Linked DNA regions of Homo sapiens: all the other regions are linked to region 3. The links come from fine-mapping of genetic effects on gene expression. A gene starts in region 3. Each other region holds a variant in brackets. All regions are shown on one strand. Distances are between the middles of the regions.

The links. PIP is the estimated chance that this variant, and not a neighbour inherited with it, causes the effect. A credible set is the group of variants that fine-mapping cannot tell apart.
Region 1: its variant is the best candidate, but not a certain one, in a credible set for the expression of PLPP1 in whole blood (TOPMed, PIP 0.83).
Region 2: its variant is the best candidate, but not a certain one, in a credible set for the expression of PLPP1 in lymphoblastoid cells (TwinsUK, PIP 0.62).

Annotation. Positions count from the first base shown.
Region 1 is chr5:55,438,074-55,443,073 of GRCh38, forward strand. It overlaps PLPP1 (phospholipid phosphatase 1), which reads right to left. Exons shown (of 6, transcript NM_003711.4): 4 at 3,778-3,835. Among named protein-coding and RNA genes, the nearest start is that of MIR5687, 68 kb to the right of the region's middle. RefSeq lists enhancers at 64-891, 3,382-3,920. The variant AAT/A (reference allele first, on the strand shown) is at 2,969.
Region 2 is chr5:55,444,410-55,449,409 of GRCh38, forward strand. The region is part of intron 3 of PLPP1 (phospholipid phosphatase 1); the gene reads right to left. Among named protein-coding and RNA genes, the nearest start is that of MIR5687, 62 kb to the right of the region's middle. The variant G/A (reference allele first, on the strand shown) is at 2,704.
Region 3 is chr5:55,532,436-55,540,686 of GRCh38, forward strand. PLPP1 (phospholipid phosphatase 1) reads right to left here and starts at 2,529. Exons shown (of 6, transcript NM_003711.4): 1 at 2,137-2,529. The coding sequence starts at 2,194. It also overlaps the pseudogene RNF138P1. RefSeq lists a silencer at 2,112-2,751 and an enhancer at 2,982-3,051.

The DNA of each region.
Region 1 (5,000 bases), 96 kb before region 3:
AATTTCATAACAGGCGGTGATATAAACAATCTGGGGTTACAGCCTCAATAGAAGGGTCTCAGGAAAAGTATTTTAACACTCCTCACTGTATTGAAAGAAAATACAGACTCATACCATGGCTGTTCTCCTGAATAATCAAATAAATTTGGAATCTCTGGCATTCAGCCAAGTTCACGGGGAGTCACTAAGCATATAAACTGGCTATGTGCAAAGCAGCCCTGCCCTGAGCTCCCGCAGGCCTGGGAGGTTTTCACTGATGCTGACACTCTCTTGGCACAGTTAAGTGTGCAGGGCTGCACTGGCTGCCAGAGAAGAACAATGGTCAGGGTGTTTTAAGAGCCATTTTTAACTAGAAGTTAATTTCTGGGTGTCAGGAATTGACAGAGAAGTTTTGGCTATCAAAGACTGTCCTAGGAGAGGATTTAAATGACTACGTCTCTACCCAAATCTGAGACTGACTCATGAAGCCAAGGTGCCCAGAGAAACAAGATGAGTCATTGCTCAAGGAATTCGGGGGTGGGGCTTAGAGGTTAAATGTTGTACATAGGCCAGGCGCGGTGGCTCACGCCTGTAATCCCAACACACTGGGAGCCCGAGGCAGGCGGATCACGAGGTCAGGAGATTGGGACCATCCTGGCTAACACGGTAAAACCCTGTCTCTACTAAAGATACAAAAAATTAGCCGGGCGTGGTGGCGGGCGCCTGTAGTCCCAGCTACTCTGGAGGCTGAGGCAGGAGAATGGCGTGAACCCGGGAGGTGGAGCTTGCAGTGAGCCGAGATCGCGCCACTGCACTCCAGCCTGGGTGAGAGAGCAAGACTCCGTCTAAAAAAAAAAAAAAAAGTTGTACATAAATGTAAAAAGCAAGGATCTGTGTATTCAGGGCTGAAATAAAAGCTGGGGCCTACATCCACATCAAGCAAATATTTCCACTACCTAGAGTCAGTAAAATGCAGTGCATGGTTGCTCTGGCCTGCTTTCTTCTCCAGAAAGGTCTTGGTCTACAACAAATCTATTTATCTAGGCTTCTTTTTTTGCCATTATAACTTTACATCTGTTAAATCAAACTAAAATCTGTCCTGAAAACCCCCTGCTCACATACTTGAGTTCTTCTGTACAAAGAACAACCTAATTTGGTAAGTAAGCAAACTGGGAGCCTGACTCAGGAATGTGCTTCTGTAACAGCAGCTGAGTCTCAGCCAGTCCCTGCAGCCATATTTCAACCACTCACAGCCATTCAAACCACGCTCAAATAAAGCTCCAAGGCCGAGCTGTAACCAATCCGGCAGTTTCTGCACCTCGCTTCCATTTTCTGTACTCACTTTCCTTTTTCTGTCCATAAATTCTCCCTGACCACTTAGAAGCAGTGGAGTCATTCTGAATCTGCAGTGACTCTGAGGGCTGCCCAATTTGAAAGTCGTTTCTTCCTTGCCCAGTGACACCCTTAAATTTATCTAAAGTTGTTCTTTTAACACAGTTGGTTCAAACTGACCCAATTACCACACTATGGTTGACATCATTTTCCCGAGTTGATATCCTTCATATGTGGCTGCATGTCCACTGAGCAGGCCTGCCACTGAGGCCCTCTATTATATCAATGTCATCCTCTCTATAGTAATTTTAATCTTTCACAAAACAGCCCTCAGTACAAGTTACTATTTGACCAATTACACAGACGTTAATGGGTGTTTTGAGAAGGGTCAAGGAAGAAGAGCAGAAAATGATGAAGTATGGAATATGTTATAGCTGAGAATTTTCTTTAAAATTACAAACAGTGGGTCAAAGTTATGTGTCAGTCACTTCCAGAATGCCATTTTACTTCCAGAGATCTGCATGAGCTGACCTTCAAAATAAATGGACTAGGGTTCAGACCAAGTAATCAATCAATCAATACAGCATGGGATCCTGATTATCAAGAAACCCCACAGAGCTCACAGAACTCAGCAGCCCCCTCCCAAGGTGCCTATTCCCTCACTTGTAAAACAGTGGCAGTCATCCCTCATCTTTTCATGGAAATTTAGTCAAAAATAAAAGTAGTGTAAAATGCAAATCATCATCAAGATCAATCAAAACTCAGATTTCTAGATTTCTCATAAAGAGGGACTTGGACACTAACACAGACAGGTGAGCGAAAAACAAACCACAATAGCTAGTGAGACAAAAGCTAGACCTAGTGAGGTCTAGCCCAGGGCATACAAAGCACGCCCACACATTCAAACGCCCTTCAGTCCAGTCACAGGCCCATGCTCTGGGAAGAGCTCTCAGGATAGTAACGGCTCTAGCTATTGCTCAGCCTTCCGGGTCTGCCCTGGTCCTCGTGCTCTAATTAAAAAGAAAAAAATATGTTGTCTCACTTAAGAAAGAATGCTGATTTTTTTCTAATATGATAAATGAACAGAAGATGTCAGAATAGTATTTTCTGCTAACTACCTTCAGATAAGTCACATTTTCCATGCTGCATCTGCAGAAACATTTGAGTGTGTGTCTTAAAAAGGAAGCCCTAAATTCTGCTGAATCATACTCTGTGCTTCTTCACAAAATTTAATTAATGTAAGATGAAAGCTTTGAAAATTAGCTGTTGTAATGGCTTGAGGTTCTGACTTTGAATTTTATATAACACATCTACAATTTACATATTCTTTTAATGTTTGGAATTTGTTTTTTCAAATAAAAGCAAGATTCTAGTAAAACATTTTAAATTATCTCTGAGACTAATTCCCATTAGTTTACCCTTAATGTTACATATTGTGCATTTTAAGTCTAAGCATTAAATTATCATACGGCACTTAATGTGATCAAAGGGAAAAACACAGGAAATGACAAATTTACACAGAACACAACTGTATAAAAATCCCCTTATAAAGAAAATTAAGACAAAAATTATAGCTGATCTATTAGGGTACAGATTTTCTAACCCTCCTCTCTGTTCCCCCTAAATAATGATAATGCAGGACATATTAATACACCCA[AAT/A]ATATAGTGTTTTATTAATACTTTATATGTAAAGAGAACATTATAAAAAAATAAAAATCAAGTAAAATTGACCTTTAAAAATCCCTTGAATGTGTCCTGAAGCCTGGTCTTGCATTAGTTACTCTCAAAAAACTACATATTCATCTCTAGTTTGATAATGCAAAATGTGGGTGCAAATCTTCGTAAGGCCTCACTGCCAGCTTTGTATGATGCAAATGCAAATTGCTATGCTGCTGCTCTACAGGTTGGCATCAGAACTGGACCTGGAAGTTGTATAGATGACAGGCTCCAGAAGTGGCAACTGCCTTTCCCAGCAGTTGAAACCTTTCTGGTCCCTTGCAGAGCACTCTGGGAATGTTTTAGAAAATGGGAGGAAAACAAAATCTGCTCAAATAGGAACAAGGACAGCTGCCTTCACTTAACAATGATCAAAACCCAACTCCTCACCACAGCAGAGCCCAGAAGGAAAGAAGCTCTGCTGCTGTTCGCCCACACTGAGCAGATGAGGAGAGTGGCTCCCAGTTAGGGAGGAGGTTAACAAGCAACAGCAGCCTGTTGTCCCAGTCCTTCAGATTAGTTACCTGCTGTGATTACACAGAAGCTGTGTTCCAGAAAACCACTTCAGGAAACGTCCCAAAGTAAGGGCACACATCAACTACTTCTCAGTATGAAACTTACAGATTTGCAGATCATCTGTTTCACCTTTTGCTACTGGCTAATTTATTAGGACAGGTGAGGACACTGATGCTGAGCACATTAATTCCATGCAGCACATAACCTAACCGTCAACAGACACAAAGTACTTACTGCCACAAACAGCATGCAGTACATGGAAAACGAAGAGTGGCCTGAATAGAAGGACAACCTGGAAGAAAAAGAAGACAAATGTTACTTTTCTCTCTTAGGAGCCAAAAGTATTGTTGATTTCATAAATCTGCTCCTTAGTTTCAGAGTGTACACAACTGCCTCCCTCTACTTTGAGAAATTAGAAGGGTACGGCAGGGGGACAATTAGGACATGAACATTAAAGAGTGCAAGAAGGATCTGAGGTCAGATCTCTATACAGTATCATTTTATTGAAACCTTCAGGATGGGTAATGTGTCATGAAAATAAACTTGCCAAGCAATTCTAAGATGTCAGAAGAATGATACTTGACAAGTCATAACTGGCACAAATTGCCTTGACTTTATTACATACACACTTATGTGACCATGATTTAAGTTTTATTTTCCACTTGCAGGATTAGTCCCTGAATAATGTCATACCTCCTTGGGAACACTCAGAAGTTGATTGCTTTTTTCCATCCATATTAATATTTTAGTATTTTGGCCCAGCGCAGTGGCTCAGTCCTGTAATCCCAGCACTTCAGGAGGCCAAGGCGGGCGGATCACGAGGTCAGGAGATCGAGACCATCCTGGCCAACATGGTGAAACCCCATCTCTACTAAAAACACAAAAATTAGCCGGGCGTGGTGGCGTGTGCCTGTAGTCCCAGCTACTCGGGAGGCTGAGGCAGAAGAATTGCTTGAACCTGGGAGGCAGAGGCTGCAGTGGGCCGAGATCGCACCACTGCACTCCAGCCTGGGTGACAGAGGGAGACGCCATCTCAAAAAAAAAAAAATTTGGTGTTTTAAATGGGCACACATCTTGCCTTACATTTCCCACCAAATTCAGTGCTTTTGTTTCTTTCAATATTAGAGTCTATAAACATCTAAGTATCATCTTCCCCACCTAAAAATGACAGAATGCTTACAAAACTTAATTTTGTGGCACTTCTGAGAAAAGAAAAATAGAGCTAACATTAAAGATCTAAGATTTGCTTATACAGAATGAGCCACTGATGCAGAAGAGGCAAGCACATCAGGCACAGTGAAAGTATGCCACGAAAAGATGCTCATGCAAATAACTAGAATGCATCTCCCAACCACTTTTCCCTACGTAAGAATAAGAACAAAAACAAGAGGGACCGGCTCTTAAGTAATTTACTTATTACACTCTGCCTTGTTCAAAAGGAATTTAAGGGAGACGTT
Region 2 (5,000 bases), 90 kb before region 3:
CTTCACTGAAATGTTTAAGACTATGGCCCTGGCCTAAGAACCCTGCCCTTAGACTTTAACCAATTCTAGATTTTAACCAATCCTAGACTATCATCTCACTTCATTATAGCCTCTCTGATGAAGGCAAGTACAGTACAGTAACAATGTGAGCCAGCTTTCCAACCAAATCTTACGAAAATCTTCTCAGGAAGAAAATTTACGGAGAGAAAAATGTATTTTGAAATGCTGCTGTTTTCACTGACTCTGAGGGGTGGTCTACTGAACAATAAGCCAGCTTCAATTATTAAGTAAACTGATTTTGACTACATAAATCACTATGAATGGGATTCTATTTTGTGTGTGTGTGTGTGTGTGTGTGTGTGATGGAGTCTCGCTCTGTTACCCAGGCTGGAGTGCAGTGGCGTGATTTGGCTCACTGCCACCTCTGCCTCCTGGGTTCAAGTGATTCTCCTGTCTCACCCTCCTGAGTAGCTGGGACTACAGGTGCGCACCACCACGCCCAGCTAATTGTTGTATTTTTAGTAGAGATGGGGTTTCGCCCTGTTGGCCAGGCTGGTCTTGAACTCCTGACCTCAGGTGATCTGCCCGCCTCGGCCTCCCAAAGTACTGGGATTACAGGCGTGAGCCACCGCGCCTAGCCTGGGATTCTATTTCAAATGGCAACTTTATGATGTTTTTTTCCTCACATTTGCCAGCCAGGGCACCCCCTTCTCAGAGCTGATTAAACTTGGCCTGATCCCCAATATCATGGCATTGAGAGCATTCATAGCCATCTGCCTGCATCCGCCTGCCCCCATGCATGTGAGTTCCCTCCTCGACTGAGCATTCTTCTATCTCTGTGCTCCAACATCCACATCCATGTTCAGCCTCATAAATCGCAAAGACACAATCAAATCCATCCTTCATCAGCATCAAAAGCAATCAACTCATATAAAGCATATCTTAATTTAGTATTTTGGGGCTCAGAAGGAGGTTAAATCACAAAGAACCCAGCTGATCATCTCTGATCTCTTCCCACCACCTGACTTTCTTCCTTTCCTCCTCCCTACTCTCCAAAGTTAAAAAGCACAAAACAGATACATCTTTAGCTGTTTTCATTTGAAATATCTTTATTTTGCATTCACTCTTTTTTTTTTTTTTTTTTTTTTTTTTTGAGACAGAGTCTCACTCTGTCACCCAGGCTGGAGTTCAGTGGCCCAATCTGAGCTCACTGCAACCTCCGCCTCCTGGGTTCAAGCAATTCTCCTGCCTCAGCCTCCCAAGTAGCAGGGATTAGAGGCGCCTGCCATCATGCCTGGCTAATTTTTGTATTTTTAGTAGAGACAGGGTTTCACCGTGTTGCCCAGGCTGGCCTCAAACTCCTGACCTCGAGTGACCTGCCTGCCTCGGCCTCCCAAAGTGCTGGGATTACAGACATGAGCCACTGTGCCCAGCCTACATTCATTCTTGAATGATGGTATTCCTGAGTACAGAATTCTAAATTGATGACTTTTTTTCTCATCGCTTTGAGGCTATCATTGCGCTATCTTCTGGCTTCTGCTTTTGCTGTTAAAATATAAGCCATCTGTCAGCCAGTTCTTTCTGGGTAATCTGTCTTTTCTCTGTAACTGCTTCCTCTCCTCCTGCCCCCATCAATCAATATTCTAGTTTTACTGCATTGTGTCTAGTACTAGGATTTCCTTTTATTGCTCTAGTTTAGTATTCATTGGCTTCTTCTATCTGAGGACTCACCAATTTGTAGAAGTCCTCAGCCACCTTTGCATACTGGGCATCCTCCATCCTCGTACCTTTCTATGGGATGCTGATTCAACACGTAAGACCTTTGCATTCTATTCCTCCAGATCTCTTACCCTTTCTTCTCTATTTTTCATCTAGGTCTCTTTAGGTGTATCTTTCATTTTGTCATCCCTTTCACTGTATCTAATCTGCTTAATCAATATGTTACACTGTAAATTTTAAATTACCATATATGTATCATTTACAAATCCCTTTGGTTCCAAACCTACTTGGCCAACTTTGATTCTCTTCATCCCACATCATATTTTCTATCTCCTCTTATTTTAGTCTACACCTGGTAATTCTAATATCTGTAATCTCTTTGAGAGTTTAGGTAATTTGTTGTATTTGCTGACTGTCTCAGGGTAGCTTGTTTCCACATAGGTCCATTTATATTAGAATGAAGTCATTAGGACTCTATCTGAGGGGAATCTTTGAGCCTTGGTTTAAGGAGAGTTCCTCCAGAGAAGGTATGTGTTCACTTATGCTGGGTTCACTACCAATACACTTTAAACTTCAAGCTTTTTTTCCTTTTCCTTCCTAAACCAAATAGTATGAATTCTTGCTCCAGACCAGTGTGAGTGTGGTCCTGTGTTTAAGAATTCTTTTTAATAGCTCCCACGGGGAGGATGCTGCCACTCTTCGGGAGTTCTCACATTATCCACATGTCTTTTATGTCCTCTTCCCCGGCCTCAGCCTTTATATCTGTGCCCCATGTTCACTGCCTATCAAAACTCAGTGTCTATGCCACCAGGAACCGGCAGATACTTTCAAGGACCACACTGGATCTACAGCACTAACTGACGCAGGCCTCAGAAAAATCCCTTTACTCTCCCACCAGCTAAACTATTTACTAAAAACACTTAAATGTGTTTCAAGATGTGTATATATAATTTAAGATACAGTATACACAAGTGTGTGTGTAAC[G/A]TATCATGTAGCACGTTTAGCTGAACTATTATCAGTAGGCACTTCTAATCCTCCATGTTACCAGAAATAGAAGCAGGCTTTTTTAAAAGAACACTTAGAACTAATGAAATGCTATCTAAAATCAGTCACTTTACTAACAGACAAAATAGTTTCAGCAACAGCGGTTTGTTTTTAATTATACAGTGACCAATGCTCAAAAATGTTTCAAATTATTACTATACCACCATTTCCCCCAGGTATGCCAAAGTTGGTTCTGCTACAAATTAGAATTTCCTTTTTCCCCTAAAAATCATCCTGAAATTGATTCCCAAAGCATTATAAGGCAGAAAGGTTGTTTAAAGACTTATAATTGTTACAAGTTACTGAGTATGTTCAGGTACTTAATACACAGCGTTTCTACTTTCACAAAAACTCTCGTGCTCACACAGAGATAATGATTCTCAGACAGGTTCAGTAACTTGCTCGAAAAGTCACGTCTCTGCAGCTCAAATCTGAGTCTTCCCAACTCTTTCTGTGCCATGATTTCACTCTTGTCAATGGTAGACAGACAAAGAGGAACTTTAATCCTGCCATCTCCAGGCAGGGGAGTTCCATCACAAAGTACAGTTTACATGTGGCAAAATGTGTAAAGTAAATATACGAAGAAGAAATTAGACTTAATCCATGAAGAAATAGATGTTGTCAATGTAAAAATTGTCTTCTTTAGAGACAGGGTCTCGCTCTGTCACTCAGGCTAGAGTTCAGTAAATAATCATTTTAAGTGAATACCAATTTGTCTTTTTTGTACACTCTAAATGCAAAAAAAAGGAAATCAAACCATAACGAGGCATTTTCTCAAATGTTATTTCCTGATTATAAAGTTTATATAACAGCAGATTAACCTGAAGTATAGCATAAGTTCCCCTCTCTGATAATCTGTAAACATGGACTGATCCTATAAAAAAGTTAAAATGTCCTGTACAAATGCTACAAATGGATATATGAGCAATGACCTCTTAATGAACATAAACTTTTCCTAAGTATATTAGTCATAGTTTATTTCAGAAAGATTTTGACAATCGATAACTGTGCTAAATGATTTGGCAATGAGATATCAGATTATTATCTACAAGAATCTCACATCTAAGATACTTAAGGAATCAAGTAGGTGATGAATGAGAAAATGAGCACTCTCATATTGCACACTTTCTGGAGGATGGTTTGGAAATATCAATCAACATAGGAAAAATGTATTATGTGACCCAGTAATTCCACTTTGAGGTATGTCTCCTAGAGAAATGCAGACGTTTACTGCAACACTGCCGGAAACTCAAGGACCCAAGGAAGATTCTAGCACCTTTTTTTTTTTTTTTTTTGACAGAGTCTTGCTCTGTCGCCCAGGCTGGAGTGCCGTGGTGCAATCTTGGCTCACCACAACCTCCACCTCCTGGGTTCAAGCGATTCTCCTGCCTCAGCCTCCCAAGTAGCTAGGATTACAGGCGTGCGCCACCACACCCAGCTAATTTTTGTATTTTTTGTAGAGATGGAGTTTCACCATGCTGGCCAGGCTGGTCTCAAACTCCTGACCTCAGGTGATCCACCCACCTCAGCCTCCCAGAGTGTTGGGATTACAGGCATGAGCCTCCGCACCCAGCCGATTCTACTAGCATTATTCTGAATACTGTCGCCCCATGGTATCTGTGGGGAACTGGTTCCTGGACCTTCCAAGGATACCAAAATCCATGGATGCTCAAGTCCCTGATATAAAATGACACAGTATTTGCATATAACCTACACACATTATCCCATATACTTTAAATCATCTCTAGATTACCTCCAATACCTAATACAACGTAAATGCTATGTAAATAGTTGTCCTACTGTATTGATTAGGGAATAATGGCAAGAAAAAAGTCTGTATACGTTCAGTACAGATGCAATTTTTTTCACAAGTATTTTCAATCCACAGTTAGTTGAATCCACAGATATGGAGAACTGATTGTACAACATATTAACTAAAATGAATAGCTCTATGTGAACTGATACAAGCTGTGTCTCCAAGACATATTTTAAATGTTACTTATTTAATCCACACAAACTATACAATTTCACATTCAATATAAAAATACATAGCAAAATGACTGAAAGGAAATACAAACTATTAACAGCAGCTCCAGGGAAAGGTATCAAATGGGGGTTAAACTAAACTTTCACATAACACGGTGATAATACTGGAAACACAACTTGATGTAAAAGGGATAATATATATGTGACAATATTTTAAAGTAATGGTTGTCAAAATATCTGACATGCCTGCT
Region 3 (8,251 bases):
TAGGATAATATTCAATATATTAGAAATATATTTTTTTCTGATCGAACATTTTCCTCTCCTTTCACTAAAATATAAACAAAGTTTAACAAAGTTCCAATGACATCAAGTATAAGTTAAAATATATTTTTTAATGTAACATTTCTATGAAAGGTAATTTTTTGTTGCAAATAAATTTGAATATATTTAATTATTAATAAGTCCCGACATCTGAAAGGACTGTGTTTTTATAAAGACAGTGTTCAGTTGGGCGCGGTGGTTGACGCCTGTAATCCCAGCACTTTGGGAGGCCAAGGCGGGTGGATCACAAGGTCAAGAGTTCAAGGCCAGCCTGGCCAAGACGGTGAAACCCCGTCTCTACTAAAAATACGAAAGTTAGCCGGGCATGGTGGTATGTGCTTGTAATCCCAGCTACTCAGGAGGCTGAGGCAGAGAACTGCTTGAACCCGGGAAGCGGAGGTTGCAGTGAGCCAAGATCGCGCCACTGCACTCCAGCCTGGGCGACAGAGCAAGACCGTCTCCAAAAAAAAAAAAAAAAAGACAATGTGCCAAAATTGTGTTCCACTTTCCTAAACTTAATTCCTAAAACTCACTGTGGACCTAAACAGGAAGTGTCTTGGGAAACAACAAAGATGCTTCATATTAACAGGTAACAAAATGCAGTTTTAGGGCCCAGCGCTGTGGCTCACACCTGTAATCCCAACACTTTGGGAGGCTGAGACAGGCGGATCACCTGAGGTCAGGAGTTCGAGACCAGCCTGGCCAACATGGAGAAACCCTGTCTCTACTAAAAACAGAAAAATTAGCCAGGCATGGTGGCGGTGCCTGTAATCCCAGCTACTAGAGAGGCCAAGACAGGATAATCACTTGGACCCAGGCGGCAGAGGCTGCAGTGAGCCGAGATCCCGCCACTGCACTCCAGCCTGGGTGACAGAGAGAGACTGTATCCAAAAAAAAAAAAAAAAGATAACAAAATGGAATTTTTCCTTACAACAACAACAAAACCTGGTAACAGAATTTATAAGAATTCCACAAGATTGCAAGGGCCTAAATGACCCGGTTGGAAACTGGAGAGTGGAATAACTAGGAACTACTGGATTAAAACCGAGGGAATCTCCTGTCACTGAGAAACCATTACGCAGACTTCCATCCAGGTGGCTAAAGCCACAGATCTCCCACCCTGAGAACTTGCCAATACTACTACTATTCTGATTACTTCAACATGAGTAGGACTATCCAAACCTCCAGCAGCTCTTGCTTTGTTTTTGTTTATTCCATCATATATAAATAGTTCACAGCATAACTGCCTTATACAATACATAAAAAGTGAAAACTACTCCTTCCAACGCCCATCCCTTATCCAAATGATTCCAGTTCTTTCTCTTCAAAAGAAAGGAGTAACTGGCAACCAGAAGCCTCATAACTGAACTCTTCCAATCAGGAAGACAATGCGAAATCTGCTGCAGCCAAAGAATGTCTACTGCTCCTTGAGACACTGTCACAAGAGATGGAAAGCTACACCATGGCAAGGTCTGGGCAGACAAGGAAACAGGTCTGGGGTACCGCATCCTCCCCCACCCCCAAAACTTCTTTAGACCTATACGCAAAAACTTGGCGTGCTCATCCCTACTTGCAACCTGACAATTTACAACCTGGCACACCTTCTAATTAGGAACTAGTTCTAGCCTTTTATAGCCGAAATATTAAACTGCTTCTCACGATAAATCAGGCACTGGCGCCTGCTACTGAGAATCCCCTGTGCATCAAACCTCCAGTTTCACTACTGAGATGGGCCAGTGACCAGGCTCCTCTACCGTACAGAGGGGAGGAGCCCACCCTGCTCTGCTAGAGTGGAACTGCAAACAGAGGACAGGAGCAAGGTATGGAGCGCAGAGGCGTGAACAGCGTCCAAGCAGGGCTGGGCTCATCGCACCGGCGGGCGACAGACAGCGGCGGGCACGCGGGAGCCGGGGTGCAGGCTGCAAAGCGGGGTCCCTCGGCTGCAGAAGCCGCCCCCGTGTGTCGCCCCACAGCTGCGCACGCGTCAGGCAACACACCCCCGCTGCCCGTCGCGGCTCTGCGCTAAAGCCCTCCCGGGACAGCCGCACACGCCCCTCGGACCCGGCGGCGCGTACGTACCCAGCAACACGCAGAGCACATCGAGGGCCACGTACGGCAGCCGCGTCTTGTCAAACATGGTCTCTGCCCGGGCTGCCCGGCAAGGGCGATGGACTGAGCTGCGGGACGGCGGCCGAGGCCCTTGATTCTCGAGCCCGGGCCGGGGCTGGCGACGGCCCCGAGCTACGGCCCCTCCCAGCCGGAGGAGGAGAGCAGCCGAGGGCGGGCTGAGACCGGGCGGCGCTCCCACCGCCAGCAATGGCGCCCGGGGCCCTCCCCTCACAGCCCCCGCGAACACTCGGTTAGTGCCGAGGCGCTCGTGTGCCAGCCGCGGCAGCTCTGTAGCCTCAGGACCTCCTCAGCCGGCACGGCCTGCCCCGGTTGCTCCCCGTCCGGATCCCGGCGCTCTCTCCCACAGGCGGGGCGTCCAGACTCTCGCTTTAAGGATGGGGACCGGCAGGGAGGAGGAACGCGGGGTCCAGCCCCTCCCGCTGAGCAGCGCAGGACCGGGCAGCGCGCGGGTTCGCGGGCGGGGGGAGTGCAGCAGGGGCGGGGCCAGGGAAACCCCAGGCCGCGGCGGTCAGCCAATCAGCGCCGTCGGCCTCATCCCTCCCGACCTGCGGCATCCGCCCAGAAGTGCGGCTCTCGGCAGCCGGGCGGGGCGTGGGGGCGGCTCCCGTTCCGATCCAGGGGGCTTTGCTCTGGACCGCAATTGCTCAGGTGGTCTCCGAACTCGGCCTCGGTACCCCCACTAGGCATTGCTGCTTTCAGAGAGCTAGGCTCCCTACCCAACGATCCTAGAGCACCGGCTGCCTGCCACTCCCCACCCCTTCCATGGGGATGAGGTAATAAACAGGTCAGATTGTTACCACTGAGTTTAAGGGGGGAAAAGAGGTCAGAGTAGGCAGGAACAGAGACGCTCTCCTTTAGTTTGGTACCTCTGAGCCCTTTCTCACTTAGGCCTCAACGTTGACCTCCCTGTGTCCTGGCTGAGCCCAAATGTTAGCAAGAAGCATGCTAAATCATCCATCCTCGATACCTGATCACCGTTGAATTCTTGATATTTAATATCGGATTAGATTCCTTATATTACACCTTTGTTGTAGAAGCCCTTGACCTGCCTTTAGCCAGAATCCCTCTACCCTTGATGTCTCCTCTTAGTAATTTTCCATCCACCGTCACCTCCCTCACAGACACGGTGCCTGTTCCTTGGCTATAAATCCCCTGCTGTCTTTGCTGTATTCTGAGTTGAGCTCAATTTCTCTCTCCTGTTCCAATAGTCATGACCCTTATTGTAATAATCTTGAATAAATTATTCATGTGTTTGACAAGTGTCAGGATAATTTTCTTTAACAGCAGCAAGCACTCCCCCTGCCCCATACCCAGGAGGACCCTAGCCCACATTTAGTAATCTCAGTTTCCTAATATGTAAAATGGGGATTTTTTAAATAAATACCTAATACTCAGACATCACAAGTACTTTGAATTTATTGTGACCTTGCAATCTGAGGCCCTTGTAACTCTGGAAGTAAAGAAAGCCACATGATAAACAATGGCCCATCTTTCTCAGGTGTAAATTGCTTAAAGCTTTTACAGCTTTAAGCTGCCCAGTGTTCCAGTCTGGAGGAAGAAGTGAAACCCAGAAAAGATTATATGATAGTGGCTTTATCTAGAGTTAAACCGTCTACAGATGTTAATGATTGGTATATTTTCTCTTTAAATATGTAAAACACAAATCACAAAATGTGCCTACTACTTCTTCGACTTATCCTGCAAAGCACTCATAAAGCCAATGGAAAGATAACATTAAACAGAGTCTGGAGATACAGCCCCAAGTAAGCTCTCAAAAACAAAATATACATTTGAAGAAAGATGTTTTTCTTTAAAACGAATGCTAATGTTTTATTTTGCCTCTTGTTTAAATAGCCGTAAAAGCTTTAAGCAATTTACACCTGAGAAAGATGTGCCATTGTTTATCATGTAGCTTTCTTTACTTCCAGAGTTACAAGGGCCTCAGATTGCAAGGTCACAATAAATTCAAAGTACTTGTGATGTCTGAGTATTAGGTATTTATTCAAAAAACATTTGTTGAGCACCTATTGTGTTACAGTCTAGTCTCAGTGTCTTAAACAGCTTTTGAAATATTTACTTTTTAAAAGTAATTTTTAAAAACATTTACTTTTTAAAAATTTTTTATTTTTACTTTTTGTGGGTACATAATAGGTGTATATATTTTGGGGTAATGAGATGTTTTGATACACGTATGCAATGTGTAATAATTACATCATGGAAAATGAGGTATCCATCCTCTCAAGCATTTATCCTTTGTATTACAAACAATTCAATTATACTCTTTTAGTTATTTTAAAATGTACAATTTAATTATTAACTATAGTGACCCTGTTGTACTATCAAGTACTAGATCTTATTCTTTCTATTTAAAAAAAAAATTTACTCTTAAAGTGCGTTTTCAAAAATAAGCATTCAAAAAAACCTTACTGATTAGTGATTTTTTGTTTATTCACACATTCATTAATTCAACATTTATTGAGCCCCTAATGGATACCTGGTACACATCTGTGAAGAAGCTAAAATAAACAAGAGAAGTTCTCTGCCCACAAGGGGAATCCTGAGGCCCACTTAGAAAGCATGTGATTAGGGCTGGGCACGGTGGCTCACGCCTGTAATCCCAGCACTTTTGGAGGCCGAGGCGGGTGGATTACGAGGTCAAGAGATCGAGACCATCCTGGCCAACATGGTGAAACTCCGTCTCTACTAAAAATACAAAACTTAGCTGGGCATGGTGGCACGTGCCTGTAGTCCCAGCTACATGGAGGCTGAGGCAAGAGAATCGCTGGAATCCAGGAAGCGGAGGTTGCAGTGAGCCGGGATCATGCCACTGCACTCTAGCCAGCCTGGCAACAGAGCTAGACTCTGTCTCAAATAAATAAATAAATAAATAAATAAATAAATAAATAAATAAAATAGATTAATAAACCAAAGCCCATTAAAATGCATTGTCATTTCCTGTTATTTTAAATGGGACTTGTGCCATGTGCAGATTATAAGCAATTAATAAGGCCAGGCACGGTGGCTCACTCCTGTAATCCTAGCAATATTTGGGAGGCTGAGGCGGTCGGATCACTTGAGGTCAGGAGTTTGAAACCAGCCTGGCCAACATGATGAAACCCTGTCTCTATGAAAAATACCAAAAAGTAGGCTGGGCGCTGTGGCTCGCGCCTGTAATCCCAGCATTTTGGGAGGCCGAGGCAGGCAGATCACCTGAGGTGGGAGTTCGAGACCAGCCTGACCAACAAGAGAAACCCTGTCTCTAATAAAAATGCAAAGATTAGCCAGGCCTGGTGGCACATGACTGTAATCCCAGCTATTTGAGAGGCTGAGGCAGGAAAATCACTTGAACCCGGGAGGCAGAGGTTGCGGTAAGCCAAGATTGCGCCATTGCACTCCAGCCTGGGCAACAAGAGTGAAACTCCATCTCAAAAAAAAAAAAGAAAAATACAAAAAAGTTAGCCAGGCATGGTGGCAGGCACCTGTAATCCCAGCTACTCGGGAGGCTGAGGCAGGAGAATCGCTGGAACCCAGGAGGCGGAGGTTGCAGTGAGCCAAGATCGCACCACTGCATTCCAGCCTGGGTGACAGAGGGAGACTCTGTCTCAAAAAAAAAAAAAAAAACAATTAATAAGCCCTTATTTGTGGAAAGAATGACTATGACACATCATTTTGTTTTGGAATGGGGAGCTTTCATTCCTTTTTGGGGGAATTTTTTTGTTTGACTGTTTTGGTTTGTTGTCATAATTGAATTCTGGTGTGATCATTGGAATTGAGAATGAGTTAAATAACTTTGAAATGGTGATGAAAATAATTTAAAAAGGAAACACGAATTAAATGGTAACACCATTAATACCCCCGGGGGAGGGGGGCAGCTATGAGTGTGTCCCTGGACTGAACATGAAACCTCAGAAGCGAGAGCACTGACTCCATTTCTCTGGAGTTTGTGCATCCCAGAAAAAAATACTTTAAAAAAATAAAGAAAGAAACCTCAGAGGCTTGCATAAATGCTTAACAAAGTTTGTCCTTGGGCCAAACTTTTCTCCCTGTAATACAGGCATCAAACAAAAGCAAAGTAGGGTGGGCTTCCGAAGAACAGTCCTGAAGCTCCCTGAAGAAGAAAGAAGCTAATTTCCTCTCTTCTGTCATTACTAAACTTCTTGAAAAGGAATCTGCAATTTACATGCTGCATTTCCACTTTCTCTTTCGATACCTCTGCATGCTCAATTCTGTCCCCACTCCTCTACTTGCACTGCTCTTTAACATAATATTATTGGTAAGTCTCCCTCTCTCCATTCTAACAGCACTTACTGTCTCAGCAACTTATTTATTTCAAAAATTGTCTGCAAAGTAATAAGACTCAATTCCCTTAGGATATTTGTGTTTCCATGTGTTTATGTTCTTTCTCCCCAAATTGACTGAAGCAAATACAGTTTCTATTATACTCAAATAGCACTGTGAAACTAAAATAACTAAAAATGTCGATGTCTGGTTCCCCAGTACATGTGCTCCAAAAAGAAAATTTCACAGGATGGTGTATTTTAATCCTTTTTACACTTTTTGTCAAAGCCATTTGCTTCATACCTTATTAAAGTTTTTAATCGGCCGACCACGGTGGCTCAACGCCTGTAATCCCGATACTTTGGGAGGCCGAGGCGGGCCAAGATGGTGAAACCCCATCTCTACCAAAAATACAAAAATTAGCGGATGTGGTGGCACGCGCCTGTAATCCCAGCTACTTGGGAAGCTGAGGCAGGAGAATCACTTGAACTCGGGAGACGGAGGTTGCAGTGAGCCGAGGTGGTGCCACTGCACTCCAGCCTGGGCGACAAAGCGAGACTCCATCTCAAAAAATAAATAAATAAAAATAAAAATAAAATAAAAATTTTAATCATGTAATGTTTGATACATAAATATATAACATATAAATAAGTTATGAAAGGCCAGGCGTGGTGGCTCACGCCTGTAATCCCAGCACTGTGGGAGGCCGAGGCAGGCAGATCATTTGAGGTCAGGAGTTCGAGAGCAGCCTGAGCAACCTGGTGAAACCCCGTCTCTACTAAAAATACAAAAAAATTACCTGGGCATGGTGGCACATACCTGTAGTCCCAGTTACTGGGGAGGCTGAGGCAGGAGAATCGCTTGAACCGAGGAGGCAGAGGTTGCAATGAGCCAAGATCCTGCCACTGCACTCCAGACTGGGTGACAGAGCGAGACTCCGTCTCAAAAAAACAAATAAATAATAATAAGTTATGAGGCATAATAAAATGGGCAACTATGAATCTACAATTCTATTCAACTGAACACCTGGATCATTGCAGAATCTTTGAAAGCACCTGAATTCTATATTTACCTTTCCCTAGCTTTGTTTTTTCCATATCGTTTAACCACGTGCATATGTATCTCTAAAAATATATATTGTTTCACTTGCTTGTTTTTTAGCTTTTAAAAATATTATGCCATAGATTTAATCTTCTGCCCTTGATATTTTTTCACTCAATTATATTTCTTACATTCATTCATGCTGCTGCAATAGTAGGTCTGTCATATGAATACATCATTTTGTTCATTCTTCTGACAATAGTCATCGGGGTTTTCATTTATGCAAATAATGCTTGCTGCAGGCATTTGTGTACATGTCTCTTGTGTGGAATTACTAGCTGCATTTTGTAGTATGTCCACATTCAACTTCATGAGATAATCTCAGATTGTTTTACTAAATGGTTATACCATTTCATCCACACCCCCACTAGTGGTGGATGAAACTCCACATTCTCATCAATGCAATATTCTGAGACTTCTTAACTTTTGCTAATTTAGTAGGTATAAATGTGTATCTCAATGTAGCCTTAATTTGCATTTCCCTGGTCACTAATGTGGTTGGATGTCTTTCCCTAAATGTATTCACCAAAAATGTTTCCTCTTCTATTAACTGCCTGTTCATGTCTTTTGCCATTTTTCTGTTGTGTTTTCTATTTTTTTTTTTCATTTTTCTATTGTTTTCTATTGTATATCTTATTCTTATTTAATTGTGGAAGTTATTCATATGCTCTTCATAGTAATTCTT